Homo sapiens: one gene and its partner. The protein of the gene in region 1 purifies or fractionates together with the protein of each later gene. This does not show direct contact. Each region holds a gene or a part of one and is shown on either strand. Other genes may lie near its edges.

What was found. The genes of interacting proteins can lie anywhere in the genome.
Region 2: the proteins of PLCD4 (region 1) and BRPF1 purify together in Homo sapiens (affinity purification with mass spectrometry; one large-scale study listed by BioGRID and IntAct). This does not show direct contact.

The regions. Positions count from the first base shown.
Region 1 is NC_000002.12:218,634,787-218,637,675, reverse strand, and holds the end of PLCD4 (1-phosphatidylinositol 4,5-bisphosphate phosphodiesterase delta-4), read right to left. Parts: exon of another isoform or gene 1,881-2,889; coding exon 1,745-1,880; exon of another isoform or gene 1,434-1,744; coding exon 1,284-1,433; coding exon of another isoform or gene 1,206-1,283; coding exon 1,099-1,205; 3' UTR 501-1,098; downstream 1-500. UniProt on the Homo sapiens protein: Hydrolyzes the phosphatidylinositol 4,5-bisphosphate (PIP2) to generate 2 second messenger molecules diacylglycerol (DAG) and inositol 1,4,5-trisphosphate (IP3).
Region 2 is NC_000003.12:9,734,735-9,738,234, reverse strand, and holds part of BRPF1 (peregrin), read right to left. Parts: coding exon 3,496-3,500; intron 1-3,495. UniProt on the Homo sapiens protein: Scaffold subunit of various histone acetyltransferase (HAT) complexes, such as the MOZ/MORF and HBO1 complexes, which have a histone H3 acetyltransferase activity.

The sequences.
Region 1 (2,889 bases):
TACCCACTAAGCCTCCTCCTAGAAGCAACTTTAGCTCATCATCAATCCTCAGACTGGCTCAGCAGCTACACTAAGGTGTTAAAGCACAAGGATACTATGGAAAGGCAGATGACTAGAGAGGAAAATCTCCAATTCAGAATTCTATAACTGCTTCACAGTATAATTCTGTAGTGCCTTACTATATAATTGATCATCTAAACTGAGACACACTGGGAAAACTTAAAGAGGGTACTATTAATAATTATGCTGGGACAACAGACATAAACCAGGATGGTTCCAGCCAGACTCTTCAGGAAGGCTGGGACCACATAACCTTTTGTCTGCTTTTGCCCTGATTCTTAAAAGCCATACTCTGTGTCCTTCCTATGTAGCACATGCAAGAGGTCTCCTGGGAACCTCTTTCTCTACCTTTTCCTTGTCTCACCTGACTACCCAGATGTCCCCACAACCCTTGTACCTCCCCTTCTTGCCCAACAATGACAGACCATATTGAAGCCAAATTGGAGAGAGATGTATTTATACCAGTGGGGCTAAGGAGGAAGCAGTCCAGTGGGGGACTTTGAGTGCTGTGCAGTGTTCTCTTAAGAGTCGTAGTACAGTCCTGGGGTCAAGTCTCTTTCCCTAATCTTTGCTGGGGAAGCCTTGAGCCTTGATTTATCCTTCCCTTGGCTTTGGGCTTTGAGGAAGTTGGGGATGGAGGGGATGATGCTTCTTTAGGTTTCTCTATTCCAAGCCCCTCTGAATTTCTAGTTGCAACCTGCCTTCACACAGAGTTGATGGGAAAGATTAGTTGTAGATGTCGGTATGGGATTGAGCCTACAGCAAGAGGAAGAAGGGAACTCCAGTATAGAGTACACAAAGGAAAAGGGCAGGAAAGATACCAAAGGCTTATGAAAACAAAGGAAGGGAAGAAAAGAGAAAAAAGGTGGAAAATCAGGTCCCAGATTGCTTGTTAGGAAGAATGAGGTAATTTTGTGCCTAGGAATGCACAATCCAAAGCTTGATTTTCACCACCTCCATTTGTTCTCTCGAGCATCCTTCCAGATGTTTCTCCCCGTCTAAAGCCAGCACACCAACCCTTCCCGTGAAATGCCCACCTCAGGACTCATCCCCCTCCAGGCCTTCCTGGATGCAGATATACACAAAGATGGAAGCTGGGCGGAGGCTGATGCCATCTTTGGACAGCAGGTGAATGTGGCGGTAACCTGGAAGGGGCAGGAGGACAGCATTAGGAAGGCAGCCAGAGCTGGGGTATTGGCCAGGGGCCAAAGGGGCTGGCTCACCTTGTTGCATGCAGGTCCAAGGCAGGGTGTACTGACCAATAAAGTCATTTCGGGATTTCCAGTCATAATCCATTACCACAAAACGCAGCATGGCAAGTTCAGGCACCAGCACCCGGAAACATAGTGTCTGCCCCCAGTATGGATTAAAACCTGAGTTGGTGGACAGAAAGAAATAAGAAGACATTATGACAGTTTTCTTGACTGGGTTGCTTTTCTTGTGTTCTCATTTAATCTAGATGGCAATCAGCATTTTACAGGTAAGGAAAAAGGCTCAGAGTAAGCAAGTAATTTGCCCAGGTCACTGGAGCTTTTAAGTGAAGAGCCAGGATTCTTTGTACTGTTCCACACTGCCTCCCATGTGGGGACATGCAATAACAGATGCTATACTTAATGGAAGACAGACTAGAAGGAAAACTAATCATGCTCCTACCCCCACCTCCCCAGCACTGCCAGTTTCTCACCATTGTTCTCCACATAGTTGGTCTCCTGCCGTGCTGTGTCTAGACGAACGCCAAAGATCTGCACTTTCACCAGTGGATCCACAATGGACCCCTCTTTGGTCTTGTCCACTTTGGGGAGTTGCTGACCGCTGATCACCTGTAGTCAGGGCTCTGGAATCTCACAAGTTCCTGCTCAGCCCAGCCCCACCCGACCCTACTCCCAACCCCAGGGGAGAAGAAGCTTTTTGGTTTGTAAAACATCCTCCATGGGTAATATATTTTCTTCTAGTATTCTATCTGCAATTTAAAATGCACCCAAAGGCCGGGCACGGTGGCTCACACCTGTAATCCCAACACTTCAGGAGGCCGAGGTGGGCAGATCACTTGAAACCAGGAGACCAGCCTGGCCAACATGGTGAAACCCTATCTCTACTAAAAATACAAAAATTAGCCAGGCATGGTGGCGGGCGCCTGTAGTCCCAGCTACTCGGAAGGCTCAGATGGGAGAATCACTTGAACCCAGGAGGCGGAGGTTGCAGTGAGCCAAGATCATGCCACTGCACTCCAGCCTGCAGCAGAGCAAGACTCTGTCTCAGAATAAACAAATAAATTAAATGGATCCAGGTAGAAATTCAACAGTTTGAAAGTAGGCATGCTAATGACAGCAGCCACTTTTTTTTTTTCAAAGAGACACGATCATACTCTTGACCAAGCTGGAATGCAGTGGGGCAGTCATAGCTCACTGCAACCTCCATCTCCTGGGCTAAAGTGACCCTCCAGCCTTAGCCTCCTGAGTAGCCAGGACTATCTATAGTCATGTGCCACCATGCCAGGCTAATTTTTAAATTTTTTGTAGAGACGGGAGTCTCTACAAAATTTTTAAATTTTTTGTTGAGACCAGTTTCAGACTGGTCTCAAACTCCTGGGCTCAAGCAGTCCTCCTGCCTTGGCCTCCAAAGCGCTGGGATTACAGGTGTAAGCTATCGCTCCCAGCCAGCCTCTTTTATAGCACTTCCTGTGTGCCAGGAATTGTAAGAACTTTATATTAACTGTTATACTCCTTATAACCCTGTGAGGCAGGTGGTAGTGTTACCCCTATTTTGCAGGTGAGCAGACTGAGGTATGGAGAGGTTAAGGAACTTGCCCAACATTACCCAATTAGGAAG
Region 2 (3,500 bases), on another chromosome or scaffold:
AGTGGCAGAGGCAGAGGCATTCAACCTCCAGCCCAGTGCTCTTAATGTCCAACCTGTATCACTTACTATGCCAACAGGCCTGGAATTGAGGGCTGCTCTCGGTGCTTGTCACACAGAGAAGGTGCTCCTTGCCTGGCATGCTATAGGTGGCCTAGACTCTGGCACTGTAAACTACAGGGTACAAAGGAAGGGATGGGGCTTTGGCTTCTAAGCAAACCAGATTTAAATCCTGCCTCTGCCATTTTATGACTTTTAGGACATCACTGCTGTACTAAACCTCAGTTTTACTGATGACAGAACGAGGATAATACTACCCACTCACAAAGAAACTGTCAGGGTTATATGGAATTATAAAAATGAATAGGCCACAAACTCTTGGCCTTTACATTTATTTATATACTACCTTGCCCAGTGCCTACTACCCCATCAGGCTCCAGCAACCCCCAGCAGGCCCATGGAAGGAAGTGTGAGCACCTTGGTGTAAAATGCCACCTAACCACTAAGTCATGTGTGACCACATACAGACGTGTGCAAATATGTACATTTATCTTTTTATTAAAAAGTTGTTTTGAAAAATGAATGAGCTAAGTCAAGTGGCACACAGCAGGCCCTAGAAAAACATTAGCTCGTTTCTCCTCTTATGTGGGAAATGGAACTTTGGCTGCTAGAGTGGGCCAGCACACACAGGCTCTGGAGCCACACTGCCTGGGTGCTGTCTAACAGAGGGCAAGTGAGCTAAGCTCCCTGAGCCTTGTTTGTTCATCTGTAAAGTGGTGATGCTAATAATCTGAACCTATTTCACATAGCTATTCTGAGCATTAAATGAGTTAATGCAGGTAAAGTGCTTAGGACAGTGCCTGGTGTGCAGCAAGCACTCAATAAATGTTAACTTATTAGTTTTTGTATGGCCTTTACCCACCTTCCTAGCATTATAGCTGTGTATGTGTCTAACTCCTCCACTACACGATAGAAGTGGGGATTGTGTCTGATTCGCCATACAGATACAGGCACTCATCACTGTTCATTTGAAAGGCATTTTGGGGGTGGAAGGGAGGAGAGAGACTGAAACATTGTAGGAAGCAGCTTCTTCCTTTTTAGCCTTTTACCTCTTCCCCAAGGTGACTGCAACCTCCCTATCTTTGAACAAGGGTATGACTCATGGATGGTGTGAACCATCTGGCTTCTTCCAGGCCTTGGCACCAGCTCTCTTCAGCACCAATTCTCACCCTTTTCTCTGCCATGACACACGTGACATTATGTGATGGTGCATAACACACTCCCACAGGCACCCAGATTACAGGCTGCAGTACAGATAAGGTAGGCTGCATGTCACGTATAATTCCTGGCACACCAGCTGACATGCCACCCTCTCTCTCCCCCTCAAGGAAGCATATTAGAATGCAAGCAAGAGAAAGTGATGCTATTAGAGAGATGACCTCAAATCTTCTCAATTTATATAAAAAGTAAATCGTTTCCAAAACTTGGGCAGTTTTACCAACAGTGGTAACAAATTCCATGCAATACACATCTCAGTTGTTTGCAGTGTACCTGCTGAGAACTGCTCCCCTGAAGAACATATCTGATCCCCAGAAAGAAAGAGTCAGTCTAAGTGGAGGGAGGAAGAAAAGCAGCTGAATGAGCTGGGCTGGGCTGCCTGTTAGAGCAGAGAGAGCTCAAGGGCCATTGGGAGGGAGGGGAAGTCCAAAGAGGGGTCTGTGTGTTTGGAGTAGGGCAGAGGTGGGTAGGGCAGTCAGTGTGAACAGAAAAGAGAAAGACTGTGGAAAGCCAGAAGGAAGTGGAGTTGGACTGAAAAGATGAAAGAATGGGAGAGGAAGTGGGAGATGGGCTTAAACTCAAACAGTGGAGAGAAGAAAGTGCTACAGGCCATATTGCTTGTTTCCAGATTTGCTTTTAAAGAACTGAGATTTAGGCCGGGCGCGGTGGCTCATGCCTGTCATCCCAGCACTTTGGGAGGCTGAGGCGGGTGGATCATGAGGTCAGGAGATCGAGACCATCCTGGCCAACATGGTGAAACCCCATCTCTACTAAAAACTCAAAAATTAGCTGGGTGTGGTGGCACGTGCCTGTAATCCCAGCTACTCGGGAGGCTGAGGCGTGAGAATTGCTTGAACCCAGTGGAGGTCGCAGTGAGCCGAGATCACGCCACTGCACTCCAGCCTGGGTGACAGAGCGAGACTCCGTCTCAAAAAAAAAAAAAAAAAAAAAAAAATGGAGGTTTAACATCATGTGGACTGCACTTTTGGTAAAAAATGCTTTTCATATAAAAGCTTTTATGACAAATCCTCCTCAGAGACCAGGCCTTCTAAGTAGCTGAAAACAAACTTACACTCTTGGCAAATTAACTCATCAGAATGCCTTTTTTGCCTTGGATGCCAACTTTCAGAGAGGTTTTACACTTGGTTTTAGTGCCATCCTTCAGCCAGGATTTCTCCATGTAGTTTCAGCACCACACTGCCCCCCATATCCCTTCATCTTTTACCTCATGTTAAAGAAACAATTAAATGACAAAAATAAAAGGGCCACTGGAGGAGTATTAAATATTGTTTAAGTATAAAATACTGCTTAAACATGTTAAAGGACAGATGACAATAACAGAACAAATAGTGGGAGAATTACCTCTGCAGATTTACAAAGTGCTTTTAGTACCTTATGAAATCAGTGATCCTAGTCTTCTACCTTTTGGGAGACAGAGAAATACCGTATCTGCTCTGCAGATGGGGTCCTTAAAACACACGTTAATTTGGATGCATTTCCCAAGGTCATGCATAAGGAAATGGAGAGGACCAGGAATCAGAAACAGGATGTTTTGCCACAGTGGAAACAGTACAGCTATGGAGTCAGAGGGACCTGAGTTTGAATCCCAGTTCAGCTATCTACTGGCATGTGATTTCAGATAAGTCTGGCCAGGCACAGTGGCTCACGCCTGTAATCCCAGCACTTTGGGAGGCTGAGGTGGGTGGATCACTTGAGTCCAGGAATTCAAGACTAGCCTAGGCAACATGGTGAAACCCCATCTCTACAAAAAATTTTAAAAACTAGCTGGGCATGGTGGCATGTGCCTGTAGTTGCAGCTACTCAGGAGGCTGAGTGGGAGGATCACTTAAGCACGGAAGGAGGAAGTTGGGGTGAGCCAACTGCACTCCAGGCAGGGTGACAGAGCCAGGCCCTGTCTCAAAAAAAAAAAAAAAAAAAAAAAGGATAAATCTGGCACCCTTTCTTGACCATAGTTTCCTCATCTGTGAAATGAGAAAAATACCTACCTGAGAGTTTTGAGAATAAAATAAAGGAGTAGCGTGTGGCACTGTAGAGTAAGTGCATTAGTGGCGTACCATTCCACTCACTGCCCTGGCAAAATCAGTGTTCTTTCACTATTCTTTATTCCTGTCACTCTTCTATCTGTGCCTCTCACCTCTCTCTGGCTAGTGAGCCCTGCTTGACCAGTTTTCCAGAGCTGCAAGGTAGAGGTGGCCTTACCGGTA